Homo sapiens: one gene and its partners. The protein of the gene in region 4 interacts with the protein of the main gene of each other region in a biochemical or structural test. Each region holds a gene or a part of one and is shown on either strand. Other genes may lie near its edges.

Evidence for each region.
Region 1: of the proteins of ELN (region 4) and MMP7, one has a biochemical effect on the other in vitro, tested with the Homo sapiens proteins (one study listed by IntAct).
Region 2: the proteins of ELN (region 4) and NID2 form a complex in vitro, tested with the Homo sapiens proteins (one study listed by BioGRID).
Region 3: the proteins of ELN (region 4) and FBN2 form a complex in vitro, tested with the Homo sapiens proteins (one study listed by BioGRID).

The regions. Positions count from the first base shown.
Region 1 is NC_000011.10:102,520,734-102,527,759, forward strand, and holds part of MMP7 (matrilysin preproprotein), read right to left. Parts: coding exon 7,024-7,026; intron 6,940-7,023; coding exon 6,791-6,939; intron 4,332-6,790; coding exon 4,203-4,331; intron 2,669-4,202; coding exon 2,507-2,668; intron 72-2,506; coding exon 43-71; 3' UTR 1-42. UniProt on the Homo sapiens protein: Degrades casein, gelatins of types I, III, IV, and V, and fibronectin. Activates procollagenase.
Region 2 is NC_000014.9:52,010,049-52,017,074, reverse strand, and holds part of NID2 (nidogen-2 precursor), read left to right. Parts: intron 1-1,799; coding exon 1,800-2,021; intron 2,022-2,618; coding exon 2,619-2,788; intron 2,789-5,391; coding exon 5,392-5,521; intron 5,522-6,027; coding exon 6,028-6,199; intron 6,200-6,380; exon of another isoform or gene 6,381-7,026.
Region 3 is NC_000005.10:128,535,221-128,542,239, reverse strand, and holds the start of FBN2 (fibrillin-2 precursor), read left to right. Parts: upstream 1-3,994; 5' UTR 3,995-4,636; coding exon 4,637-4,890; intron 4,891-5,755; coding exon 5,756-5,838; intron 5,839-7,019.
Region 4 is NC_000007.14:74,059,147-74,066,172, reverse strand, and holds part of ELN (elastin isoform a precursor), read right to left. Parts: exon of another isoform or gene 6,306-7,026; coding exon of another isoform or gene 6,288-6,305; coding exon 6,126-6,287; intron 6,034-6,125; coding exon 5,989-6,033; intron 5,798-5,988; coding exon 5,672-5,797; coding exon of another isoform or gene 5,573-5,671; intron 5,073-5,572; coding exon 5,034-5,072; intron 3,964-5,033; exon of another isoform or gene 3,893-3,963; intron 3,021-3,892; coding exon 2,949-3,020; intron 2,864-2,948; coding exon 2,804-2,863; intron 2,553-2,803; coding exon 2,478-2,552; intron 480-2,477; coding exon 441-479; intron 230-440; coding exon 176-229; intron 1-175. UniProt on the Homo sapiens protein: Major structural protein of tissues such as aorta and nuchal ligament, which must expand rapidly and recover completely.

The DNA of each region.
Region 1 (7,026 bases), on a different chromosome or scaffold from region 4:
ACAATCCAATGAATGAATGAATGGATGTTCTGCCTGAAGTTTCTATTTCTTTCTTGAATTACTTCTCTTTCCTATTGAGAGAAAAAAAAAGAACATTCTGATATGTAGAAAATGCATAAAAACCATCCTAAGATTATACAGGCAAAGGAAATGTCACAGAAAGTATAATCTATTATTCACTCAGACCATTTCTTGTCCCTGGGACAAAGATTCTGAAGAACAACCTCCAGAGGCTAAGAAGGCAGGATTGACTGGAGTGTGGGCCCAGGGCTCAGGTACCTTTGCATCTTGTTTCTACCAGTTTACTAGATGTGTGACCTTAGGTAGTTTACTACTTAACCTCTCTTAGCATCAGATTACAAATCTGTAAAATGTGGATAATAATGTCTCATTGAATTCTTGAATTAAATGAGTTAATCCATGTGAAGTCTTGGGATACTGCAAGTACTCAATGCATGTTAGCTATTATTTATTTATTTTTTGAGATGGAGTCTCACTCTGTTGCCCAGGCTGGATTGCAGCGGTGTGATCTTGACTCACTGCAACCTCTGCCTCCTGGGTTCCGGCAATTCTCATGCTTCAGCCTCCTGAGTTGCTGGGACTACAGACATGCACCTTCACGCCCGGCTAATTTTTGTATTTTTAGTAGACATGGGGTTTTACCATGTTGTCCAGGTCTCGAGCTCCTGGCCTCAAGCGATCCCCAACCACCTTGGCCTCCCGAAGTGCTGGGTAAAGGCGTGAGCCACCGCGCCCAGCCAGCTATTATTTTTATCATTCTGAGTATAGCATTAGGAATCTTGTATCTTAATCACTTTCTTTGGAATCTATGTTTTCTGCTCATATTACTTTTTAGATTAACTCCCTACATATACAGCCCACATAATTAAATTCTATTTCCATTTGTCCAGAAGTTACTTGTTTCCAACTCTGACCAGAGATGCCCTTTTGTCTAATACTTAAGGTTTTAATGCACTAGTCTCTTTTCTTCCTGTTAAATTTAATCAGCATGCCTCAGACCTTCTTTAGTCTCTTTGTATTTTTCTTAGGGTTCTAAAATATTTATAGACTGCTATAGAATATTCCATGAGTTCCACAGTTTTATGTAAGGGGAGGATAGTATTTTCAGTTTTGTTCATGATAACTTTACGAACAATAGTCAGCATTTTGTGAATCTTTTGGACAGCAGTGGTTCTTTACGTCGTAACTTTTGGGAATAGTTACACAGCATTTTCCAAAGTGTGTTCTCTGAAGTGCTAGTTTATGGGACTCATTGAGACCCATAAAAAGGATTATAATTTAGGAAACACTGAGTTAAACATTTGTTCAATACTCCATACTCTCTAATAGTCTATACACCTGAAATACAGTAGGTAGTGTTTCTTGAACTTATTTCTCCATAGCCTCCTTTTCTGGGAATCACCCTGTAGGACTAGTGTTCTGAGAATACAGTTTGGGACATGCTGATTTATAGCAAATGCTAGGTTGAACTGATATCTTAAATCCAGTGTCTTACTGGAATATTTCTCCCCTGAGGACAGTCCTCTATTATGTGGAAGCACTTTCATTGCTCACGTGATCATTTGAAGAATCTTAAGTGATCTTTTTGCAGTGTATTCTCTTCATCCTGATATTTTTACTGGCTAGGTTTAGTTATATCTGCTGATTTAAAGATGTCATTCTGTATTCTTTTATTCTTACTAGGATAAAAAGCTTACTGGGTAGTGATAGGCAGGAATATGTCGTAGAAAAAGTATGAAGTCACATAGCCCTCACTTGGAATCATGGCTCAAGCACTCGACAGTCACATGACCTTGGACAGTCCACTTAGCCTCTTTGAATCTTACTTTCCTTATCTTTATCCAGAGACAGAGCTTTTTATTCTTGTCCTTTGATTTCTTTCTCAAATACTACTTTTGGCTGACTCAATACAGTAAATCCAAATCAGTGCACTTAAAAAAACTGAATTTGGAACTTGATTAAACCAAAAAAGCATAGACTGGGGCAAGGGATATACATAAGTATCAAGACCAGGAATGATAAGCAGTTTCTGTCCGTGGTTAACCGCTTTCTCTACATGTACGTGCAAACAGGAAGAGCAGGGTCACTTATAATTATCTAGGATTGAATCCTTAGGAGTGGGCAGCTATGAAGAAAGGTGTTTTGTCCCTTCAGTCCACCCCTACAGGGGACACTCTCCTAAACTATTTAAACTGAGAGAGGAAGAGCAGTGGGTGGCAGCTTGAAGAAAATCTGGACAATATCATTTGCATAATTTTACCACATGATACTATGTTACTGAAACTCACAATCAACATCTTCATAGTATATTACAGCCTAGTTATATTTTAAGTATCTAAGGTCCCCAATTCCTCCCCTCAATAGGCTTTTTGATATGAGTTCCAGTGTGGTTTTCCAGGTAAATACCCATTTCCCAGCCTTTCTTTTCCTACCCCACTCTAAAAAGAAAATGGGAAATCCTCTTATTTGAAATAATAAATATTACCATATAGTTTCTGAATGCCTTTAATATCATCCTGGGAAAGTTTAAAATTTTGGGGATCTCCATTTCCATAGGTTGGATACATCACTGCATTAGGATCAGAGGAATGTCCCATACCCAAAGAATGGCCAAGTTCATGAGTTGCAGCATACAGGAAGTTAATCCCTACAACCGAAGAAGTGACAAACAGTAATGATAAAAATAGCTACATACATTATGTAATATTATATATATGATATCATAATTTAAAAAAACTAAAGAAAAATACCCAAGTTTTAGCCCACGGTAGCTTACTTATTTGTTTCTAGGCTTTCAAAAGTGGAGAGGGGTTAGAAGGTTAATCAGAATAGGAGTGCTTTAATCTCATCACTACTTCTGCTTATTAAAAATGTGTAATTTTTTTTATTTGCTTCTTTCATTCAGGCAGCAATACTCTGCAGTGGAAAGCAAAGGTTTTAAAAGCACTAAGACCTAGGTTTGAAATGTAGCTCCACTACTTACTAGCTGGACAACTCTGGACAGATTAATTGATGTTGCTGAGTCTCAGTTTCTCATCTGTTAAACAGAGACAGTAATTTCTGCCCTCTAGATTTGTCATGATAGCTAGAGTTTCTCAATATTTGGGAAGTCACGGCCATTCAATAAATGTTAGTGACTTTGGATATCAGAAGAGAGAATGGTGGCTTTGAGAAAGCGAAGATTGAAAGGCAGGGTCTCTAGGCAATGCTGGGCTTTGTTTTTGATTTTGATTCATTAACTTGTATTACATATATCCTTTGTTCTCCCTCATACTCATTGAAAGGCTTTGCAAGTATGTGGAAGGTGTGAGCCCGTGCGTTTGAGGAGTGGCCTGAGCTCTGGTGGCGTTGCATTGAATTGAAGGAAGCTGCCTTTAACCTACCTTAAGTGGGAAGAAAGAAGAATGAAAAGAATATGCCAGATGCAAATGGGAGGCAGCATCACAATTTAACATAGATTTTCACAGCAAGACAGCAAGCTATGGTGAATTCCTTTTGCCAAACACAAGTACAAATTTCCCTTTTAGGGCCAGTTGGTAGCCTTAAAAAAATTGTCTCTAATTGGGATTATTTATGCCAGAGCTCTTCTCCATTAGTTCTCTCATGTGCCTATAATATCCTACTATGTAAAATGATAAATATGATATACTAAATCATGGAGTTGGTTCTTTCTGGAAAATAGTGAATAATTCCAGAATTGCATATACTTCTCAAATATCATAGTTTCTACTTCTCTTTCTTTTCCATTTGGGGCATGTATTTTTTGGAAATATGAAGAAAGAGCTATAATTTAATTAATTATTAATACATTCCAAGCACTGTATAAGCATTATCTCATTTAATTTAAAGACTCCTTGATGTGGGAACTATTTATATTTCCATTCCACAGAGGAGGAAACTGAGGCTCAGAGAAATTCAATAACTTGCCCAATGACACAGAGTAATTGGTAGACGTACAGCAAATTGGATCAGTGGTGCTTGACTCCATAGCCTGAGTGTCCATCTTCTGTGTGTAGCATTATGAGTATATTACATGAAATAATGCATTTCAGGCATATAGTACAGTGTTTGGCACTTAGCAAGGGCTCAATACTTATTATAAATTAATATAATTATTTAACTTAGTGTAAGTCCAGGATTTTAAAACGGATGTGGAGTAGAAGAGACATGAGATGCTATACCTAGACTGCTACCATCCGTCCAGCGTTCATCCTCATCGAAGTGAGCATCTCCTCCGAGACCTGTCCCAGGCGCAAAGGCATGAGCCAGCGTGTTTCCTGGCCCATCAAATGGGTAGGAGTCCCCATGAGCTGAAAGAAAATGGAGTGATTGTTCTTAGTGACTGATTTTTTTTTTCTCCAGTCATTTTATTTTTCAGTTTATACGATTATTGAGGCTAGAAAAAGCAGCCCAGTCCAGGCCAGGCATGGTGGCTCACTTTGCGAGGCCGAGGTGGGCGGATCACCTGAGGTCAGGAGTTTGAGACCTGTCTGGCTAACATGGTGAAACCCCGTCTCTACTAAAAATACAAAAATTTGGACATGGTGGCACATGCCACCAAGTAGTAATCCCAGCTACTTGGGAGGCTGAGGCTGGAGAATTGCTTGAACTCAGGAGGCGGAAGTTGCAGTGAGCTGAGATCGCGCCACTGCACTCCAGCCTGGGTGACAACAGTGAAACTCCATCTCAAAAAATAAATTAAAAAAAAAAAAAAGGCAGCCCAGTGCAAGTAGCTGACATTGTTATGTGCTGTCGGTTGCACTCACAGGGTAGTTTGGGTGCTTTCTTGGCCCAGACACTTTTCCTTTCACAGAACCATTGCTCATCACTGATAATCACCATATATTGAAAGCTTACTGGATACAGGACTTAAAATGCAGTTATATCTAACTTAAGGTTGCATTTAAGCTTTTGTTAAATTTGACCACTTTGCTCGGCCAAAGGGTGGTGGGAGGGAGAATGAATATGAATACCACATTTGGCAAGTAATTTGTGCACCATTTCATAGGTTTTTTTTTTTTTTTTTCTTAAAAACCTAGCTTATTCTTCGTGGGCATAGTAAATAGTCTCTTAGAGAGCCATGCTCAAGATCTCTTAAAATGGCTTTTTATAGTCCTTTAATGTGTGATGCAGAGCTGGTTATCTTCGAGGTGATATGAGGCCAGTCCAGTTTATCTAGCTCTTAAAAAACTTGTAGTGCCATGATTAGTGCTTTCCCATAACATTTTCTTCGGTGTTGTCAATATTGTGGGTTGAAGTTCAAATTTCAGCTACAGTAGCCGGACCATTCCACATAGAACAGACTGAAATGGGCAACATTTTTCTCTAAATTTGCACCATGAAACACTAGCAATTAAGAACAATTTATGTATATGGGTTTTATATATACATATATACACACACACACATATATAACACATATACTAAAAAAATGGGTTTTACATATAGAAAAACCCACGTAAAAAAAAAAAATATATATATATATATTTTTTTTTTTTCTTTTGAGACATAGTCTTGCTCTGTTGCCCAGGCTGGAATACAGTGGTGTGACCTTGGCTCATTGCAACCTCTGCCTCCCAGGTTCAAGCGATTCTCATGCTTCAGCCTCCCAAGCAGCTGGAATTACAGGCATGCGTCACCATGCTCAGCTAATTTTTGTTTTAGTAGAGATGGGGTTTCACCCTATTGGCCAGGCTGGTCTTGAACTCCTGACCGCAGATGATCCACCTGCCTTGGCCTCCCGAAGTGCTGGGATTACAGGCGTGAGCCACCACACCCTGCTGTGTTATATATTTTTAAGTTCTTTAATATGAAAGTTTCCATTTCCTACTTCCTTGCCACATGAAAGGCATTAGCAACAGGTCATATACCACTTCTCAGGGGACTCTTGAGGCCTTTGGAAGCTGCGACTCTTTCTGTTGATTTAATATCGATGTTAGGTAGATATATTGTAAACATATAGTCATGTGCTACATAATGATCTTTCAGTAAACAGATCACATATACAATGGTCCTATAAGATTATAATGGAGCTGAAAAATTCCTATAGCCTAGTGATATAGTAGTTGTGATAATGTCATAGCTCAATACATTACCTTTTCAATGTTTAAATACGTTTAGACACACAAATACTTGCCACTGTGTTACAGTTGCCTACCGTATTCAGTATAGTAACATGCTGTATAGATTTACAGCCTAGGAGCAATAGGCTATACTATGTAGCCTAGGTGGATAGTGGGCTGTATCACCTGGGTTTGTGTAAGTGTATTCTATGATGTTAGCACAGTGACAAGATTGCCAAAGTTCTCATTCTCAGAGTGTATTCCCATTGTTAAGCAGTGCATGACTGTATATATAAATAATAATTCACGTTACAAAACAGGGGTTGGCAAACTTTTTCTGTAAAGGGTCAGATAACAAGTGTTTAAGCTTTGTGATCTCTGTCACAGTTGCAGCCTGAGCCCAAACAGTCATAGGTAATAGGGAAATGAAGGAGCCTGACTGTGTTCCAGTAAAACTTTATTTACAAAAACAGAAGGTGGGCTGGATTTGGCTCATGCATCATAGTTTGCCAACTGCTGCTATAAAAAGTGGCTCTATATTACCAGATTATAAAAATTATAATAATATTGCTAAATCTATCTATTAACTATCTATCTACCAATCATATCTCATTAAAGGATTTTAATCTTCATAAGAAAAGAGCACTGATATAAACCATGAACAAACAAAACAGGACACAGGATTAGCCTACAGGAATCTTTCTTACCTCCTCGCGCAAAGCCAATCATGATGTCAGCAGTTCCCCATACAACTTTCCTGAAATGCAGGGGGATCTCTTTGCCCCACATGTTTAAAGCCTTTGACACTAATCGATCCACTGTAATATGCGGTAAGTCTCGAGTATATGATACGATCCTAGTAGCAAACAAGAAAACAATGTTTGACCCCTAGGAAACAGGCTTTATTGTTTTTGCCAAAATGAGCCAGAGCAAAACTAACCTG
Region 2 (7,026 bases), on a different chromosome or scaffold from region 4:
GTAGCATTTCCCTCTCTGTGTTCCTTGAGACACATTTGGCTGAAGAAGTCAGAGTCTTACCTTCTCCACGGGGTCTTAAAAAGAGCTTTGTCTCCCATGGGTCATGAGCTACAGTGACAACTTAACGGCATTCGCTTCCCCCAATTCTGGTGAGTCGTGCAGTTGAGCTAGAGCTAGTTGGGTTTGAGCTCTGACAACTTCATTCGCAGTCTTTTGTGTTCCAAGAGGAATTGTAGGTGCTGGAACCTGATCATAATGCTCCCAGCTTTGTTCTTTAGAGTCACTGGAGGGTTTTGAACGGAGTGACATGAAATGCCTTTATGTTTAAAATGGGCCATTCTGGCTGCTGCTAATTGAATTTACACTGGTTTTGGAGAGAGTGAGGGCATAGAAGGGTGGAAGCAGGAAAACCAGTGGGAAGGCTGTTGCAGAAATTGCAGGGAGAGGATGAGGCTTTTTGACCAGGGTGAGGGGGTGCAGTAGTGAGAAGTAAAGATATTCTAAGTGGATTCTGAAGTTACCCCTAAAAAGAGTTTTTGACATATCAAATGTGGATGGTGAGAGAAAGGAGGGTCAAGGATAATTAGGTCTGAGCAGTGGAAAAATGGAGGTGCCATTTACTCATATGGGAAAGACCAGGGGAGCAGCTGGTTTGATGGTGAAGGCAGGGGCTCAGTTTCTATTAGTTTCTGATTTCTATTATACATCTAAATGGTGGTAGCAAGTAGGGTTATTGGCTATGTGATTCTGCAGACCATGTGCTTTAAGTTGCAGGAATTAAAAAGGAAGGAGAAGCACCTCCTCTTGTTTAAGTTCCTTTGGGTAGTCCTAACATAAATGAACAAGTTATCTCAATAACCTTCTGCAGCAGAGTCTTCTCAGAACAACCTGTATTTTGGACAAAGCCTCAATGGCACTGTGGAAGCAGCCTGGGAGGAAACTGCTTTGCAACCAAAGCCAGCAGGACTTCAACCATGGAGTGAGCTGTGAGGGAGGGGACAAGAGGAGAGGATGCTGGAGAAAGGGGGGGAAAGGGCAACACGGCAGGAAGCTAGAGCCTGCAGGAAAAGATTCAGCTTTGAGATAATCCCAGGCGCAGGGTGGCTAAAGCAATTCTGGAAACTGGGCTGTGGAAGAACCATTTTTAAGCTGTTTGCCACCACCTCTGCTATGCTTTACTACTAATTCCACTCAGTTTTACCTTTACTCCATGTAGTTTTCCAGTGGGTAGACAGAGGGCACCGTGGCGCTGGGCTTTCAGTAATACTTTCTAAGACACACACTGGCCAGTCGCAAGATGGCCCTCTCCTCAGCAGCTTCGAGCTTGAAGCTTGAAGCAAGTGGGGAATGAATACAAATTGGCTTTAAGCATCACCTCGGCTACTGAGTCCCCAAGGATCACCTGCACAAGTGCTCTGTCAGCAGAGGCGCCCGAGGTACAGGCAGGATGGGCCTTGTGGGCCTCTCCTGGCCAGAAGGAGATCATGCCCCTTCCCAGGCTGAGTGAGCTGCACTGCTGATCTTACCTCCTCTTGTTCTTTCTTGATGTGGCTGGGCCTTGATGACAGACCCTCCTGGCAAGAAAGAAGCATCACATGATCTATTTCTGATTCCCATGGTGGAGAAGTACTTAGAACACATTTGCTTCCCAAGTTTGGTGTCCACGGGCTTGGCTGAGACCTGGACAGTAGGAGAAGGAAGGCCAGGAGGCCAGGCATGGGGTCTTGAGCTACATTTTGCATTCTGTCCTTGACTCACAATCAAAGGTTTTTCTTCTTCCCTCTTCCCCATCTGCTCAGAGCCCACCCAGAGGCCCCCGACCATCTGTGAGCGCTGGAGGGAAAACCTGCTGGAGCACTACGGTGGCACCCCCCGGGATGACCAGTACGTGCCCCAGTGCGATGACCTGGGCCACTTCATCCCCCTGCAGTGCCACGGAAAGAGCGACTTCTGCTGGTGTGTGGACAAAGATGGCAGAGAGGTGCAGGGCACCCGCTCCCAGCCAGGCACCACCCCTGCGTGTAAGCACCTGGCCGCCCCCGCTCCCCTCAGCTGTATCTAAGGCCTTTGCTAGGGATGGTGCCTGCTGTGGTGAAGTGGGGGGACATGTGGGGTCACCAGGTCTAATGAAAGAAGTCACTATGTGCTATGTTGATTTATAATCTGGTCCACACAAGATCCCAATTTGCGTTTGGTGTCTGGTTTTTGTCATTAGCAGCTTCCATAATTGGAACATCTGCAACTCGGTTCAGCAGGCAGTTACTCCCCCTCCCCAGCCCAGGGTGACAGGGGACACGTGTCACTCTGGAGTCCTAAAAGGAAGCTGACACAATGCTGGCTCTGTTTTTTTTTTCTCTTGAAAAAAAAATCTGTTCTGCTTTGTTCTGAGGGAAGTGTTTTGCTGTCTTCTTCCCTAGTAAATGGCAGATTTACATAATTGATCCTTAAAAAAACCCTAGAAATTAGAATTTCTTTTGAAGAACATCTGGAGCACATCTGCGTAGGGCGAAGAACTTTTGATATTTTTGGAGGCTCTGGTATGTGGTAAAGTAACTTTTCTTCCCATCTCCCTGCCTGCCCTTGTTCCCCTTCCTGCTCTCCCACCCTCTCTCCCACAGGTATACCCACCGTCGCTCCACCCATGGTCCGGCCCACGCCCCGGCCAGATGTGACCCCTCCATCTGTGGGCACCTTCCTGCTCTATACTCAGGGCCAGCAGATTGGCTACTTACCCCTCAATGGCACCAGGCTTCAGAAGGATGCAGCTAAGACCCTGCTGTCTCTGCATGTAAAGTGGATTTCTCCTGTAGGGGGCAGGGCTGCGTGGCTTTCCCAGTGGGAGCCACCTCACAGGCCCTGTTGCAGTGAGGTGGACTGGTGCAGGGAAGTCCTGGAGGGTTTCTGAGCTGCAGCCCATCGGCATGGGCCCGATGCCACCACCATAGGACCAGGGCTCTCTCTTGCTGGGAGTCACCTGTCACTGACCAAGGCTGTGCTCTCTGGTTCGTTCATGGAGTTTCAGATAATATGGAAAGGGAACTTTAGAGTTGTCAGCACATGGAGGCTGTATGGTGATCCAAGGGAAAATGGACCGACTCTTACCCTAAGTCCCCAGGGTTGTATGTCATAACATCTCCATGGAAATCCTGGAAATCAAAGTGACAGGACAACTAGTCACAAGGTGTGATCTCTGCGGTTTGTTGGGGACTCCAAGTGGAAGTCAGTTAATGACTGTCTCACCGTTGCAGCCCTTCCCTTTCACTTTGGTTCTGTCCCTTTGACCCACTTCTTTCCTAACCTTCCCTGACTCCATAGATGAAAACTTGAGGAGTGTGTGATGCTGGGAGAGGAGTGGATGGAGCCTTCCCCAGGGGATGTTTGATGCTTCCTGAGCCAGCAGCCTCCCTAATGCAAGGCACCCCATTTTGGGGAGCGGGTTTTCTCAAAAATGGAGGAAAAAAAAGGGTGGCTGTCTCGAATGGCATCGACACAGTGGAAAATCATCTGATTCCATTGTTGAACTTCACACTCCAGGCACTTGCTCATCCCTGAGAAAGAATAGTACGGCATTCAAGTTTACATTTACTTCTGTTAATGAACGACACTTATTTGGTTCCAGAAAAGCTTAGAGGCAGCCAGTGTTTAGGAAGAGATGTGTTCTTTTTAAGATTCGAGTTTGTTGGGTCCTGTCCCCTCCCCCAAGAAAACTCTCACATTGTTTTGTAAAACTTTCTCTGGAAGAGGTAGAGACTAAGAAGTTGACATCACTTTAAGCTAACCCTCTTTTATTCAAGTCATAGAGCTTGATTGCCTTTCTGAACATGCCCCTGACCAGGACAGGGTGGTGATGGTAGTGGTAGTGGAACTGAAAGAAATGGGACGTGGGTTATTTGCACATTTTAAGGAAATTTACTTAAACTGGGACTTTTTCTCTAACCTGAGGTTATGACATGGGTTTATGAATCCCATGATTCCCGGGTTAATGGAAGCTCATTTGAATGTGTACTCTTGCCTGGGACAAACGACTTTTCAATTTTCAAATAAAAGTGTAGTTGACCTTAGGCCCGCCCCCCATATAAGCTGCCTGTTTTTCCACTGAAGCCAAATCCCGTTTTGTACAATCTTTCTTGGCTGACTACGCTCCCAGGGGGCGTAAGTGAAGCCAAGCCCCAGGAGGCTGTTAGGCAAGGCAGGAACTTGTATGACCTCAGGGACAGCCAGCTAACCCCTGAATGTTGGCTTTGCACATCTGCTGGGCTTCTCAGAGCAGGAGCCTGGATTGGAAACTGAATGAAGCAAGTTCTGCATGGAGTTGAGGAAAAATATCAGACTCAGCATTTTTTTTATTTTTATTATTTTTTTAAAAGACTTGTCATTTATTTAGCAATGAGGAGGAGAGACCTCACTAGCCAGAGGTTGGATAACCACTACTCCCTAGTTCCTTAACCCAATAAATTAGATTTTTTCCTTCTTTTGAGACAGGGTGTAGCTCTGTGTTGCCCAGGCTGCAGTGCAGTGGCACCATCTCGGCTTGGTGCAGCCTTGACTTCCTGGGCTCAAGCGATCCTCCCAACTCGGTCTCCTGAGTAGCTGGGACTACAGGTGCGTGCCACCATGCCCAGTTCATTTATTTTTTGTTTTTTAGACGGGGTCTCACTATGTTGCTCAGTCTCGAACTCCTGGGCTCAAGCAATCCTCCTGCTTTGGCCTCCCAACGGACAGGGATTACAGGCGTGAGTCACTGTGCCTGACTACACTTTCTTTAGTACAGGATATAACCAACATCTTGCCTCCTAAGAGTCAGGGGCAGGAGTATAGGTGATTGTACTTCAGGTAGAGGAAAGATCTCATTCACAGAGGAGGGGAGAGTAGATTTTGTTGGCATATAGTGGCAAATTTTATTAAGGCTCTGGGAAAAGTGCTGATGACATTGGGAAAAGATTCAGTTTTTACCCAGTAAAATATTAAAAACTTATTTTGCTTAAGGCCATGTCCTCTAATTACTGAAGGGGCTGATTTTTTTTTTTTTTTAAATCATCAGTCATAATAGCACCTATTGAAGGGCTTACTGTATGCCAATTACTGATTAGGACACTTTACAAGCACTTATAGTATTAATTTTTATAGCAACCATATGAGGCAGGTACACTATTGGCCTCATTTTGCAAATGAGACAAACGCATAGAGGTTAAATGCCCAAAGCCACATGGCTACTAAGTGGCTGAGCCTAGATTTCACCCGAGTGCCCACATGTCCAGCTACTCTGCTCTGTTGCCTGCAGGATCACAGTGCAGTGTTGCTCACTGCAGCTGTGCATGAGCAAGGCAGCTGAGTGTGAACAAAGGGGAAATGTAACCTAATTCTTCTAATTCTATGATTTGATGCACAAAGGGCTCCATAATCGTGGGAATTGATTACGACTGCCGGGAGAGGATGGTGTACTGGACAGATGTTGCTGGACGGACAATCAGCCGTGCTGGTCTGGAACTGGGAGCAGAGCCTGAGACGATCGTGAATTCAGGTCAGCAGCTTCACTCAGCAGTCTGCATTTCATTTGATTCTACAAAGTCACTTGTCTACTTTACGCCGAAGTCTCCCCTCGATTTTTCTCCATTAGGGGAGGTTAAGTTCTAGGCAAGTCATTTTATTGAGCTGTATAAGACTAGCCCCCTCTGTAAGCAAACACCTTCATACATACGGAATGAAATAGGTGATTCCTACTGTGCGCACTTCTTAAAAGAATTCATGGTAAGAATTCAGGGTGACGCCTTCGTTTATTCAGCCTGGCTCTGGCACTGTGGATGCCGGTTGTCATCAAACTGGTAGGTCTGCTGGTCTAGAAGCTAGAGGTAGTGGAATATGTAACAAAAGTACTTGTTTCTCTATTAACCTGGTTCTTGGGGACTTGGAGACACTTGGGCTTTGCTTTCCCCTGCTGACCCCCCTGCCCACCCGACCGTTGGAGGGCTTCAGGTTTGCCCTCCATATCCTGCAAACACTCCAGTCCTGACTTTGCTTTATTTCCAGGTCTGATAAGCCCTGAAGGACTTGCCATAGACCACATCCGCAGAACAATGTACTGGACGGACAGTGTCCTGGATAAGATAGAGAGCGCCCTGCTGGATGGCTCTGAGCGCAAGGTCCTCTTCTACACAGATCTGGTGAATCCCCGTGCCATCGCTGTGGATCCAATCCGAGGGTCAGCTGGGCTTCCCTAATTCTTCTCTTACCTGTAGATCCTGATGTGAAGCCCTTGGGTTTTAAATACAATGTGGGGAAGGTCAGAACAAGAGAGTGAAAGCTCAAATGCATTCATGTAACAAAGATTTACTGAGGATCTAAGAGGTGTCAGGACCTGTTCTAGGAAAAGACAAGGTCTGTTCTTTCATGGCACTTATATTTTATTAGGAGGAAACAAGACTGGTATAAACAATATTAGTCTGTGATGTGATATGTAGAAAATTCAGATAGTGTTGTGAGAACTAGGGCTACTCTGAATCAAATGATCAGGCGAGGCCTCAGCTGACACTTAAACTGGAAGTGAAGTGGGATTCCTCCAGCAGCACATTTAGAAACCAGGGTTGACGCTCACAGTAGGGCTGACCTACATCAAGTGACATTAGCCAAAGCTCAGACACCTCTGGCTTCAGTGTTGCTGTAGCAGAAATCAAGATAAACATTTTCCCTGTCTGTATAATTGCTAAGGTCATCAAATGTGACATACAGGATTTGTTCACTGTCTCAGTACTTGTTACAATCAGGGAGAATTTTTATATCTTGAGAAACTCTTGCCATGTTTAAGTGGAGTTTCTACGAAATGAAATTCCCAGATGCCCTTCAAATCAGTAAAGAAAACCTTCAGCTTTAATTTTCAGGTAAGTGCTTTTTGACTATGAAATACTTAGTGCAGTGCCTCAAAGGTGGTTTCAAACTTTGGGTTCTACACACAGGAAAAGTACCTGTATCCTTCTCTATTCCAGTTGACTTAACAGGAATTAATAGCCCTCTTAAAAACTCTTTGCATAG
Region 3 (7,019 bases), on a different chromosome or scaffold from region 4:
CTGTGTACCTCCTATTGCACCATAAAAATAAAAACATAATGTCTGGTTGTCTTACTTTTCATAAGTTAATAATTAATCAGTAGGTTCTGGTGGTAACAGCTTGACACATTCACTAAAAAGTTCCCAATTGACTTTTTGATGCACGGCTTCCCAAGTAAATTTGTATTTTGGACCAGATAATGCTTTGCTATGGGAGACTGGCCTGTACATCGTAGAATGTTTAGCAGCATCTCTGATACTCTCATCACCACTCCCACACACTGTCTTGTTGTGACAATAAAAAATGTCTCCAATTACTGCCAAATATACCCTGAGGAAAAATGGCCACAAGTTGAACACTTCTTACCTAATGGTTTTAGCAGTTGTTAAAAACCGTTGCCTAGGTCCATTATTTTATTAGGGTTTACAAGTAGTGATTTTTCTAATTCCATCATTCCTGCATTTACAACTGTGGTTTTTTTTTTTTTTCAAAAGAAATACTTTCTCTGGGTCTTTCTAGCAAAGGAAGAATAACTGGTTAATAATTTTATTTATCGATGCGTTTAGAATAGTGAGCTGTGCCCTAACAACCTCCAAAAGTGGCCAACTAATTTTTGTTTGGAGTATCATTCGGAAATCTTGAATACTGACACACTTCATGTATTTCAATCTTTTGCTGTCATTTCTTTTTTCTTTTTGATGCTCAAGTTTCCCCATCCTTAACCAGCAAGATCTCTTTCAACTTAGCTCAGGTTTCCTTTTGACATGACCTTAATAGTCAGATAATTTCTTGCTTTCAGGCATGACAAGACAGATAGTCCAGATTCACTTTATGCATTTCCTTTCCCAGACTTAGAATCTGCCACTCACCCAAGGAACCCTGATTCCTTTAATTTAGAAATGGTATTTAGGAACCACAATCTGGTCACAATGACCTTATGGTTTTTGGGTTGTCACTATTTCTAGGTCTTTGGAACATAGTTCCAAAGCCAGAACTATAAAACTAAGTTTATTTAGAAAGGTTTAGCTTCCACCATTGTTTCTTTCCTCATAGTCTCCCCTTTCTCTACAGATAACCATTTTTTATTAGATTTAGTTTATACTTCTTGTTTGTTGTTAAATCTATAACACACTCATACCCCTAAAAAGTAGCATACAATATTATACAGCTTTCATTTAAAAAATATTGTAAAAAATAGACATAACATAAAATTTACCATTTTAATCATTTTTAAGCGTGCAATTCAGTAGCATTAAGTACATGCACAATGTTGGACCACCGTCACCATTATCCATTTCTAACTTTTTCATCATCCTAGGCAGACCACTTTGTACTCACTAAACAATAACTCATCCTTCCCATTTTCCTGGAGCTCCTGGTAACCTTTATTCTACTTTGTCTCAATGAACTGCCTAGTCTATCTGTACCTTGCTTTTTTTTTATTTTAGTAGACTGTATATGCTAGAGATCACTCTCTAAGAGCATACAGAGTTTCTCTTCATTCATATTTGACAGCTGCATAATACTTCACTGAATAGATGAAGTCATACACAACAGTTGCTTGTTCATGGGAAGTTTGTGTTTCTAGTCTTTCACTATTATAAACAGTGCTGCAAAGAACAGTCAAATGTATGCACCATTTCATTTTTTTTTGTCTATGTATCTTTTATATAGGTTCCTAAAAGTGGAATTGCTGGATCAAAGGGTAAAGGCATAGGCAATTCTAGAGCATTTAGATTTAATGTGATGGACAGGAATGAACCATGAAGCCACGTAAGTATTAAACAACAGCAACAACAACAAAAAAAGCAGATACAGGATGTTTTAAATGGTATGACTAAAACACTGCTTTAAACCAGGAGATAGTTACATTAGTTAGCTCTTTTAGTTTAAATAATTTTATTATTTGAAGCGAAGTACGTGAAAATAACTGTATTGCTCTTTCTCTGGATTTTAACAAATCGGTGTCTCACATGAAATTATGTAACTCTTATCTTTTCTTCTGCTTTATGAGAATACTGTAACAAGGGGTACTACCTTCAGACCCTTTGACTACATGGAGAAATAAAGGAGGGAGTTGTGCCAATTACTGGAGAATTTTGGCTGTCAAATAGCACATCTGGGCAATTTGGGCCAGAAATACATATATATGATATATGATATATATATGATATATGATATATATGATATATGATATATACGATATATATGATATATGATATATATGATATATACGATATATGATATATACGATATATATGATATATATGATATATGATATATATGATATATATGATATATATGATATATATGATATATATGATATATGATATATATGATAGATCATATATGATCTATCATATATATCATATATCATATATCATATATATGATATATATGATCTATCATATATATGATATATCATATATGATCTATCATATATATGATATCATATATATGATATATGATATATATGATATATGATATATATCATATATATGTTATGTGTATATATGTATATATGTACGTGTATATATATACACACACACACACACACACACCCTCCTATACATATTCAACATTTTCCCCTTTAAACTAAGGTTTTCTAGGCTTGAATAAACCAGACACTGCTCTTTTGTACTGTTTCGCAAACTGTGCTTGGATGGTCTCTCCTTGTTTTCAGGAGTGTTTGATTTTTAAATTGTGATATTCCACTAAATGAGAAATGACCAGGACTTCACAGAGATTTCATGAAAGGAGGGCCACAAAGGAAGAACCCAGAGCAGGCCGGTGAGAGGCACTCTAAGAGGTACAGAGGGTTGCACCAATTGCTAGGATTTAATCAATCAGAAGGGGTCCAAGCCAGGAAGCAAGGGCATGCCCCGAGCCTCATTTACCCGCCTTGTCACCACCCTGCCCGCTAGTACATTTCAGAGTCTCTAACCCCTCCCTGCATGCAAGCCCAGGCAGAGTCCTGCCAGGTTTCACACCAGAGCACACCCCTGCACGGACTCCCCAGGACCGCGGCGCCGGCTGGCTGCCTCGGCCCCCCGCGGCCGCGTGAGCTCCCTCTTGGTGGTGGAGGGCGCATTTCAATCTGGAAACTCCCAGCCCCTAATTTGGTCCCGCAGACTGACGCCGCTCCCGGTGGGGCGGTGGGGGTAGGAGGGCAAAGGGGAGGTCTCCTCCTTCTTGGATTGAGGCTGCAACCAACAGCCCCGTGAGCCTCTATTCCTGGCTGACTGCGAATCCCCCCATCCCAGGTCAGGGGCCGGGACCCTACAGAAAGACCCGTTCTCATCCTCAACCTTGCGGCCTCTGTCCGGCGGGGAAGTTCAGCTGCGGGTCAGTTCAGCTGCGGGTCCGGCCAAGCCTGGCGCGCTTAGGCACCCTAGTCCCTGGTCCGCGGCCGGGCGAGGACGGAGGGGGAGGGGAAGGGGCTGCTGCCTCCTTTCCCAAATCCGGTCCCTAATCGCCCCATCCCCCGCCGTCTACTCGCTTTGTACAGGCAGTCAAAACAGAGCTAGCGGCCAATTGACGGGGACGGGAAGCAAAGCCGCCTAGCGCCTCGCCCCCTCCAGCCGGCCCCCCGGGCCCCTCCTCTCGGCGCCCGGACCTTGGCCCTCCCTCTCCTTTCCCACTTCTCTCTTTGCCCTAACTTCGCCCCCATCCCCCGCTCATTTCCTCTCGCACCCGGGCTCGCCAATCCCTCTTTCCAAGTCCCTCTTCCAGCCCGGCCTTCCTCTCGGGTTCGCCCCCCTTCTCCCCAATCTCCGTCCTCTTCCCTCCCTTCGCCCTCCCCCCCTTCCTTCCTCTTCCCCTCACCCAACCCTGGTTCCCCTCGTTCCTCAGTCCCGATCTCTCCCTTACTCTGTCCCCGCCCACTCTGCGCCGGCCTCTCAGTCCGGGTTGAGCCCCACGTGTGGACGGCCGCGCCCCCACTGACAGCCGCCGCCCGCCGGCCCGCCCCGCGCCCCGCCGGGCCTCTAAAACCCCCGCGCCGCGCCCTCCACCGCCGCATCTTCTCCAGCGCCCAGCCTCCCGCCCTCTCTCTTGCTGGCCGCACGCCCCGGCCCCGCGCACCTCCGCCCGGCTCCGCAGCCGCTACCCGCGCTTCGTTGCCCTGTGGGACTCCGAGCGAGCCCGGAGGGAACCCTCCTCTTCTTCTGGGGGCGACTTTTGTTTGCTTGCCTGTTTCTTTCTGGTGACTTTTGCAGCTTTCCAATATCCGTCTTCGGAGCGCACGGGAATCCGCCGAGCTCTGCGTGCAGGCCCTTTTTTCTTTTGAGGTTCACATTTTTTGAAATTTTACGCCAGGGCTTTTGTAATTTCCTCCCCCGCCCGCTGACGGTCCTGGAGTCGCTCGGGGCTTTAGGCCGGTTATGCAACGTGTACCGCTCGGGGCTGCCGGCTGCACCTCCGCCGCGCCTCGCCGCTCACTGCGCTAGACCCGGCGCCCCGCGTCTCGCTTCGCGGGCAGTCAGGGGGCCGGCGCTCTGTCGAGGTCTCCAGCTAGAGCAGGGAGCCCGAGCCCGAGGGAGTCCCCGGAGCCGACGAAGGGCTTATTAGACCCTGACTCTTTTCTGAGGCGCGCAGATTTTGTCTTTGATCACTCCCTCTCCGCGGGTCTACGGCCGCGCGCTTTCGGCGCCGGCGATGGGGAGAAGACGGAGGCTGTGTCTCCAGCTCTACTTCCTGTGGCTGGGCTGTGTGGTGCTCTGGGCGCAGGGCACGGCCGGCCAGCCTCAGCCTCCTCCGCCCAAGCCGCCCCGGCCCCAGCCGCCGCCGCAACAGGTTCGGTCCGCTACAGCAGGCTCTGAAGGCGGGTTTCTAGCGCCCGAGTATCGCGAGGAGGGTGCCGCAGTGGCCAGCCGCGTCCGCCGGCGAGGACAGCAGGACGTGCTCCGAGGGTAAGTGGGCAAGCGGCTCCGCACCTAGGGCTCCGGCTTGGGGGAGGGGGGAATCCTCAGTTTGGCGGCTTTCTGGCCCACTCCGTCCCAGACCCTTTAGCTGGAGCCTAGAGCTGCAGCCCCCTTTGCCAGAATATCCAAAGACCCCCAGGAGCGCGTCCCCCTTTTCCTTCCCAACCCCGCAGCTCAGCGGGCGGAAAGCCCTCTCTCCGGGGGTTGGGCGGCGGGTGGTTAGGGGGTCCAGGGGTGCCGATCGCAGAGCGTGTGCAGAGCTCGCGCTGCGGGAACAGGTTCTGAATGTCCGGCGGCAGGCGGGCCTGGGTCCGCCTGCTGCAGGGGCCAGAGAAGCCTGCTTGCTCCCCACGTCGGGGCCGCCGCTCGTGAGCCTTTTGTTTGAGGACGTGTGCAGGGTTCACAGCTCACCTTCTCATCGTCAACCCGAGCGCTCCACCTTGCGACGCGCTTTCCTTGACACGTCGGGGCCAAAGTAACAGTTGACCAAGGAGGAATGGATTTGGGAAGGAGGGCAAGGATTCTTTGGAACGGAATGGTCCCTTTGTTCTCTGCATCTGGAAGCTAGAATAGTAGCAAATTATATGTTTCCATGCCTCTTTTCGCCCTTTAAAAAGGCAGGCAAGGGACGACAGATGAAAGGCAGTGTTTAGACATTTCTGACCCTCCTGCATTCCAGCATCTAGCTCTTTTGCTTCCACGTCTGCCTCCCGATCTCCAATAATTTGAAGTGTAATTTTGATTTGTTTGTTGTCCTGAAATCTACTCGCTCGGGGCATTGCTTACGAAGACCGTTTATATGTTGCTGCATCCCTCTACCTATCTGTTACGTGACCGCGCTTGTCCATCACAGGCCCAACGTGTGCGGCTCCAGATTCCACTCCTACTGCTGCCCTGGATGGAAGACGCTCCCTGGAGGAAACCAGTGCATTGTCCGTGAGTGCTTGGCAGGGATCGCAGCTTGGGGCAGCGCACTCGGCCCTATCTCCGGCCGACCTCTTGCACTCAGCCATTTGGACGCATAGTTGCGTTTAAAATCAAGTGATCACATTGCACTGATAATCGGGACGCGGCCCCATTTGAATAGTGGGGAAGACTCAACCGGTTTGAGTCAGTTCAGACTTCACTTCTAGACTCTGTTGAAGGGCAATAATGATAAAGATTTCAAAGATAATTGAAAGTTTTATCTTTCTATGTCTATTAATACAAATTGGAAGAGGGGAGGAGTAGAGCAATTATCTAGATAACTCAAAACCACTTTTTCTGTAAAAAATCCAGATGAGACCACATGTTATTATGCAAATTATCAGGCTTTTAACTCTGCTTGAGGTTTGGGCCTTATGAAGATCAAGATTTCTTAGGCATTTATATAAAACCACTTTCTTATTTCTGGTTTTATATCAACAACCACATAACCTAGATACGAAAGGAGCATTCTCGCGGATTTAGTGTTGACCTAAGTTAACAAACTTTTAAAAGACAGAACTCTTACAAAGGGGCTTGAGTTTTTTTTTTTTTTTGCTTTTTGGAAGACGTTTAAATTTAGGGTTTCCAGACCCTGAACCTCAATAGTGTGCAGTAGATTTCCAAAGTATGAATCTTAGACCTTGAAAAATTCTGTATCTCTGACCTTAAAAGTTTTGATTATTTTATTCTGTTTCCAAAGTGTATAACCAGTTCTCCAAGTTCTAATTGGAGAGCTCATTAGTTATCAGCCTCACAGTCACGGACTCTGGGATGTCTTATTTCATATGCCTGTAAATTTGTGACTTGCAGTGTGACTGGCCTTCTCCTGTGTGTTTATGTAGCACAACCACATTTGTCTTGTTGGAAGGAGAGCCAGGTATCATAGACAGCACATTCATTTAGAGCCAGTCTTGACTTTAGATTGACCTCCATGTTCTCCAGGGAGAAAATAATTATGCAACTGTGAACAGAGAAAAAGGGCAAGGCACACTAACCAAGGGATAATAAGGATGTAGTGGCATTTCTAACTCTGTATTTATTGGTTTTGTGGTTTTGAGATAGATGCTTAATGTTATTTCTGGGCAGTTTTTAAAAAAGAGATGAAATCTCCAGTGTCATAAAGACTAATTTCTTCTTATTTTTTCTACCTT
Region 4 (7,026 bases):
ACCTTATAGCTTGCCCGTTTGCCCAGTACATCTGCAATCCTAAAGTGCCCTCACCAGCCCCAGTCTCCTGTCCTTGTGTGGACATGGGCTCTGGGAGTCCCCACTGCTAGATGGACAGGCCCCCTCTAGATCGGGACAGAGCTGAGGACTACGTAGCAGAGCTGGCCACCCCTACCTCCAAGTGGGAACTGCCCGGCACCCCCTAGGACACCTCCAAGGCCAGCAGCACCTGAGAAGAGGCAGGTGGGGTCAGGATAAGACACCCCCATCGGGAAGAGGCCCTGATATCCCTGCTGGGTTCTGGGTTAAGGAATGTCCCAGACAAGATCTTCAGGGGTAGGGGGAGCCAGAGGGAGGCCTGAGCTGGGCTGGGGGAGGGTGGCGATGGGCATGGCAGGGGGTGCAGGCCACTGGCAGGAAGGCATCAGAGGGGAACTCACCGTATTTAGCTGCTTTAGCGGCTGCAGCTGGAGGTATACCTGGGGAGATGAGGCACATGACGGCTCAGGAATGCCAATGCCACCTGTCAGGCCCTGTCTTTTTTTTTTTTTTTTTTCTTGAGGCAGAGTCTCACTCCTTCGCCTGGGCTGGAGTGCAGTGGCGCGATCCCGGCTCACTGCAACCTCCATCTCCTGGGTTCAAGCGGTTCTCCTGCCTCAGCCTCCTGAGCAGCTGGGATTACAGGCACCCACCACCACGCCTGGCTAATTTTTGTATTTTTAGTAGAGACAGGTTTCACCATGTTGGCCAGGCTGGTCGCGAACTCCTGACCTCAGGTGATCCACCTGCCTCGGCCTCCCAAAGTGCTGACATTACAGGTGTGAGCCACTGCACCTGGCTAGGCCCTGTCTTCTGACCTACTCACCCTTTACCGTCTGCCCATGGACTCATCCTCCCAGTCTATCCCCCCATCTCTCCTTCATCTATCCAGCTTCTTGCTCTGTTGCCCAGGCTGGAATGCAGTGGCTTGATCACAGCTCACTGCAGCCCTGAACTCCCGGGTTCAAGTGATCTTCCTGCCTCAGCCTCCCAAGTAGCTGAAACTACAGGCACACACCACGCCCAGCTAATTTTTAAATATTTCGTAGAGGTGGTGGTGGGGGGGGGTCTTGCTACATTGTCCAGGCTGGTCTTGAACTCCTGGCCTCAAGCAATCCACCTACCTAAGCCTCCCAAAGTGTTGGGATTACAGGCATGAGCCACCATGCCCGGCCCCAAAAGTCTTAATTGTTAAGCTCCTACTGTGTGTCTGGTCTTGTGGCACTCACAGGAAGAGCTGTGCAGGCTAGTTTACAGGGGGAGACACAATGACAGCCCAAGAAAGGGGGAAATGGCCACACAAGGTCGGCCACCATGGTGGAGACTTAGGGAAAGCAATTTCTCTCCAAGCTTTGATTTCTTTCTTGGAGAACTGGCATAACCATCATTCTCCTAATTTACTCCCACCGCAGTGGTCAGGTGGGTTGAAAGAGAGAGGAGAGGGGGAGGACTGGGACCCTGGCGGCAAGGGATAGCCCCAGCTCCCGTTTGCCACATTTCTTGTTTTTATTTTGTTTTGGGATGAGGTCTTGCTCTGTTGCTCAGGCTGGAGTGCAGCGGCGTGATCTTGGCTCACTGCAACTTCTGCCTCCTGGGTTCAAGTGATTCTCCTGTCTCAGGCTCCCGAGTAGCTGGGATTACAGGCGTGTGTCACCATGCCCAGCTAATTTATATACATACATACATACATATATATATATATATATATATTTTTTTTTTGAGACGGAGTCTCGCTCTGTCGCCCAGGCTGGAGTGCAGTGGCGCGATCTCGGCTCACTGCAAGCTCCGCCTCCCAGGTTCACGCCATTCTTCTGCCTCAGCCTCCTGAGTAGCTGGGACTACAGGCGTCTGCCACCACGCCCAGCTAATTTTTTGTATTTTTAGTAGAGACGGGGTTTCACTGTGTTAGCCAGGATGGTCTTGATCTGACCTCGTGATCTGCCCACCTCAGCCTCCCAAAGTGCTGGGATCACAGGCGTGAGCCACCATGCCTGGCCTCTTTTCTTTTCTTTCTTTCTTTTTTTTTTTTAGATGACAGGGTCTCACTCTGCTGCCCAAGCTGGAATGCAGTGGTACCATCTCAGCTCACTGCAGCCTCTGCCTCCTGGGCTCAAGCGATCCTCTGGCCTCAGCCTCTCAAGTAGCTGGAAATACAGGTGCCCACCACCACGCCCGGCTTATTTTTGTATTTTTGGTAGAGATGAGGTTTCGCCATGTCACCCAGGCTGGTCTCAAACTCCTCACCTCTAGTGATCCGCCCACCTTGGCCTACTAGAGTGCTGGGATTGCAGGCGTGAGCCACCGCACCTGGCCAAGAGGACATCTTGAGCAAAGACGTGCCAGGGGTGGGAACGAAAGTCTCTGTCTCTGTCTCTGTCTCCATCTCTGTCTCGCATACACACACCACACACACTCACTGATTTCAGAACAACTCTCACCTCCAAGGCCCCCAACACCTGGAACTCCAAGCCCTCCGACTCCGAGTCCTCCGAGCCCAGCGGCTCCCACTAGGCCTGTGGAGACAGCTGAGCATTAGACTCCGCTGGTCAGAAAGGTGGGACTGAAGCCTCGGCCTGTGGAGGGCGGAGGTGTCCTCTGGGGACACAGGTGGAGCCTGAGGTCTCCCCTGGCCTTCGATGGCACAGTGGAGCCAGGAGGTGTCTGGGGCAGGGACTCTGAGTCTACAGTGCCTGGTCAGAAGCTCCTCCCACACCCTGGGGGCCTGGGGGCCTGGCGGCAGCTCCCACCTCCACCCAGTGCTCACCAAACTGGGCGGCTTTGGCAGCAGCTTTGGCTGCGGCAGCGGCGGCGGCGGGTCCGGCTCCTGGGAACACAGACCGAGTTCAGGGAGGCACTCTGTACTGGTTAGATTCCCTCCCCACCCTGCCCCTCCTGGGGTTTCAACTCACCCACCACACCGCCTGGGATGCCTACTCCACCGAGAGCCCCGAGCCCTCCAAGGACCCCAGGCACTGCTGCTCCTGCGGGGAGAGGAGGGAAAATGAGTGTTCCATTTCTGAACGATGGGTCTCCCTGCCCCAGGGACACAAGGCAAGCAGACAGGTGGCAGGGGCCATGTGACACTGTGGAGGAGCAGTGGACAGGAAGTCCAGTCCATATTTTGTTTCATTTTGAGATGGGGTTTTGCTCTGTCACCCCGGCTGGAGTGCAGTGGTACAATCATAGTTCACTGCAGCCTCCAACTCCTGGGCTCATGCGATCCTCCTGCCTTAGCCTCCCGAAGGTGTGAACCACTGTGCCTGGCCTTAAAAGTTCTTTTGTAAGCCGGGTGCGGTGGCTCACACCTGTAATCCCAGCACTTTGGGAGGCTGAGGCTAGTGGATCACCTGAGGTCAGGAGTTTGAGACCAGCCTGGCCAACACGGTGAAACCCTGTTTCTACGAAAAATACAAAAATTAGCCAGGCGTGGTGGCGGGCGCCTGTAATCCCAGCTACTTGGAAGGCTGAGGCAGGAGAATCACTTGAACCCGGGAGATGGAGGCTGCAGGGAGCCAAGATCGTACCACTGCATTCCAGCCTGGGCGACAGAGCAAGACTCTGTCAAAACAAACAAACAAACAAACAAACAACGGTAATAGTATCTACAGCAGGCACTTAACATTTTGAGTGCTTCACACTTAGCAGCCCATTTTTTATGCATTGCAGCAGGAAAGGTAGGCACTATTGTCATTCCCATTTTGCAGATGAGAACGCTGAGGCAGAGCAGAGGTTAAGCAGTGTGCTCAGGGCTTCAGGGACGGGAAGTGGCTGGGGAGCCTGCGCCCTTCGCGGCTCCACCACATGACGTCACTCTGTTTCCCTGGCAATGTCTGTTGACTCAGGCCTGCCAAGCAGTCAGCAGTGAGCAGGGGAGGAGGCCAGGGCTGCTGGGGGTCGGCGCTGAGGAAGCCAGGATTTTCCGAGGTAGAAACTGGCCCCAAGTGGACCTGCCCGGCTGGTTGGTGGATCCCTGGGGGAGTCTTCCACCTCCCACCAACGCTGCTCACAGGAGGCCAGGAATTCAGGGGCTACAGACAGCGTGGGTCTGGCCAGGCAGGGCTGCCAGAGCGCCAAGTGCAGAGGCTGTGGGACTGCCACGTCCTCTGGGCTGGCTCGTGGTGGGAGCGGTCCTGCTGGCAGGACAGGAAGGCGGGCGGGGGCCCGGGGTGCCCAGATGAGGAATACCAGCTCCTTTGCTCGGGCCAGAGAGCTGGGGTGGAGGCAGAGACTGCCCAGACTCCTCATACCCACAGCAGGCCCAGTCCCTTCCTGGACACAGGGACCATGTAACTGTCAGGGTCAGGGCAAGCTTAGGGATGGTGGAATTGCCTCCTGGGGGGCAACTGGGATTTCAAGGGTGTTTTTGGTGGTCACAGGGGTTGAAGGCACCATAAGCATTTAGTGGGCAGGGGCCAGGTTTTTAAACTGTCATAAACGTGTCCTAGAAACTGCCTTTTTCTTTTTCTTTTCTTTTCTTTTTTTGAGATACAGTCTCGCTCTGTCGTCCAGGCCGGAGTGCAGTGGCGTGATCTCGGCTCACTGCAACCTCCATCTCCTGGGTTCAAGCGATTCTCCTGCCTCAGCCTCCCGAGTAGCTGGGATTACAGGTGCCCGCCACCACACCTGGCTAATTTTTGTGTTTTTAGTAGAGATGGGGTTTCACCATATTGGTCAGGCTGGTCTGGAACCCCCGACCTCAGTTGATCTGCCCACCTCGGCCTCCCAAAGTGCTGGGATTACAGGTGCCCGCCACCACGCCTGGCTAATTTTTGAATTTTTAGTAGAGATGGGGTTTAACCATATTGTTCAGGCTGGTCTGGAACTCCTGACCTCAGGTGATCTGCCTGCCTCGGCCTCCCAAAGTGCTGGGATTACAGGTGTGAGCCACCACGCCCGGCCGAAACTGCCTTTTTCTATTGTGACCACCCCAGTCCTGTGCTGTCAGGGATGGTGTGGTGGCAAGGGAGCCACAAGTGGTTGTGGGGTGCACTCACCATATTTGGCTGCTTTAGCGGCAGCCAGGGCTCCAGGTACTGGGGAGAAAGAAAAGTTGGGGAGTGGTCAGGAGCCGAGCTCTGTGCCTGGGAGTTCTGCCGCCTCCTCTAGAGAGCCCTCCCTGACTTCCTTGGCCTCTATTGCTTCCTCAAAGCCCTGAAGCTGTACAGGCACAGAGCTTTAGGGCTGAACAGTGCCTCCACCTTCCGTCTGCCCCTTCCTTCTCTCCCCAGGCCTAGCATGGACTGCCTGAGGCTGGGCACAGAGTGGGGCTCAGTCACCAGCTGGTGAAGAACTGGAGTTCCTAGTGGTCCCCTGGCCACAGAGCACTGCTGAAGGGGAGCCAGGCTGATCTACCTGCTCCTTCCCTGGTTGGAGGGCAGGCTTTTTCTCAGTCTGGAGCCCTGCCACCCCTCTACTGAGGAGGCAGATACTCTGCAATTGGGCAGCCTGGGGTCCCTTGGCCTGGTCTGCCCTCCTCCCGCTATCTGTTACCCCCAGATGCTTAGGAGAACCTAACAAGGATTTTACTATGCACCCCTGGGTGATGAGGGGGTGCTGGGGAGGTGCTGAGAGGAGGAGGGATCTCCTTCCCTGAGCTCAGGGGACAGGCTCCGCCTAACTCCCTCATCTGCACCTGCCCCGAAGCCAGGAACACCAGCACCAACTCCAAGTCCAGGAACACCAGCACCAACTCCAAGTCCAGGGACGCCGACACCAACTCCAAGTCCAGGGATGCCAGCACCAAGCCCAGCTGCAGCTCCTGCAGACAGAGGGCAGTGGTGGCGACAGCAGGCAGGGAGCATGCCCCTAAGGAGGTGTCCTGCCCAGGGAGCTGAGCCTAGTCCCAGAGGAAGGGGCCCAGATCCAAGCAGCGGCCTCCTCCCTGGCTGTTGCCCCTAACCAGCTCTGAGATCGTTGGGGAGAGGAGAGAAAGGTGGGCGAGGCACTCACGGAGCTGGGCTTTGGCAGCCACCTTGGCAGCGGATTTTGCTGCAGCTGAGGGAGGGAGAGAGAGGGGGATTAGAGATGGAGGCGGGGCCCATGGAGGCTTCGGGGGCCCCTCAGGCTCATTGACTCATGAAACTCACCTGCAACTCCACCAGGGCCAATGCCGGGAGCCACGCCAACGCCAGGAGCCACACCAACTCCAGGAGCCACGCCAACTCCAGGAGCCAAGCCAACTCCAGGAGCCACACCGACACCAGGAGCCACGCCAACTCCAGGAGCCACGCCGACACCAGGAACTAACCCTGCAAGATTGAGAAGAGCTGATCATTAACCAAGACCTGATCAAAGAGGACAGAAGCTTATGGAAAGAGGGCTGGAGCCTCGGCCCTGGCATAGATTTGCTGTGTGACCCTGGATCAGTTACTTTCCCTTGCTGGGCCTCAGCTTCCTCCTCCCTAATATGAAGTGTGTGCAGGCTCAGGAGTTCATAACTTTGTTTTTTTGGAGACAGAGTCTCACTCTATCGCCCAGGCTGGAGTGCAATGGCGTGATCTCGACTCACTGCAACCACCACCTCCCGAGTTCAAGTGAGTCTCCTGCCTCAGCCTCCTGAGTAGCTGGGACTACAGGTGCGCACCACCATGCCCGGCTAATTTTTTTGTATTTTTAGTAGAGACAGGGTTTCACCATGTTGGCCAGGCTGGTCTTAAACTCCTGACCTTGGGTGATCCACCCGACTTGGCCTCCCAAAGTTCTGGGATTATAGTTGTGAGCTGCTGCATTTGGCCAGGAGTTCTTAACCTTTTCAGTGACAAGGACCCCTTGGAGATTTGAGGCTGATGGAGGCAGATTTACATTATATAAGGGACTTTGTAAGACAGAAAGGCTTTGGGTTCAAATCTCAGCTCAGCCACCATTTAGCTGTGCAACTGTAGGCAAGTTACTTAAGCTCTGGGAACCTCAGTTTCCACATCTGTAAAATGGGAAAAATAAAATCAACTCTGTAAGATTTTTGTAGGCCAGACACGTTGGCTCATGCCT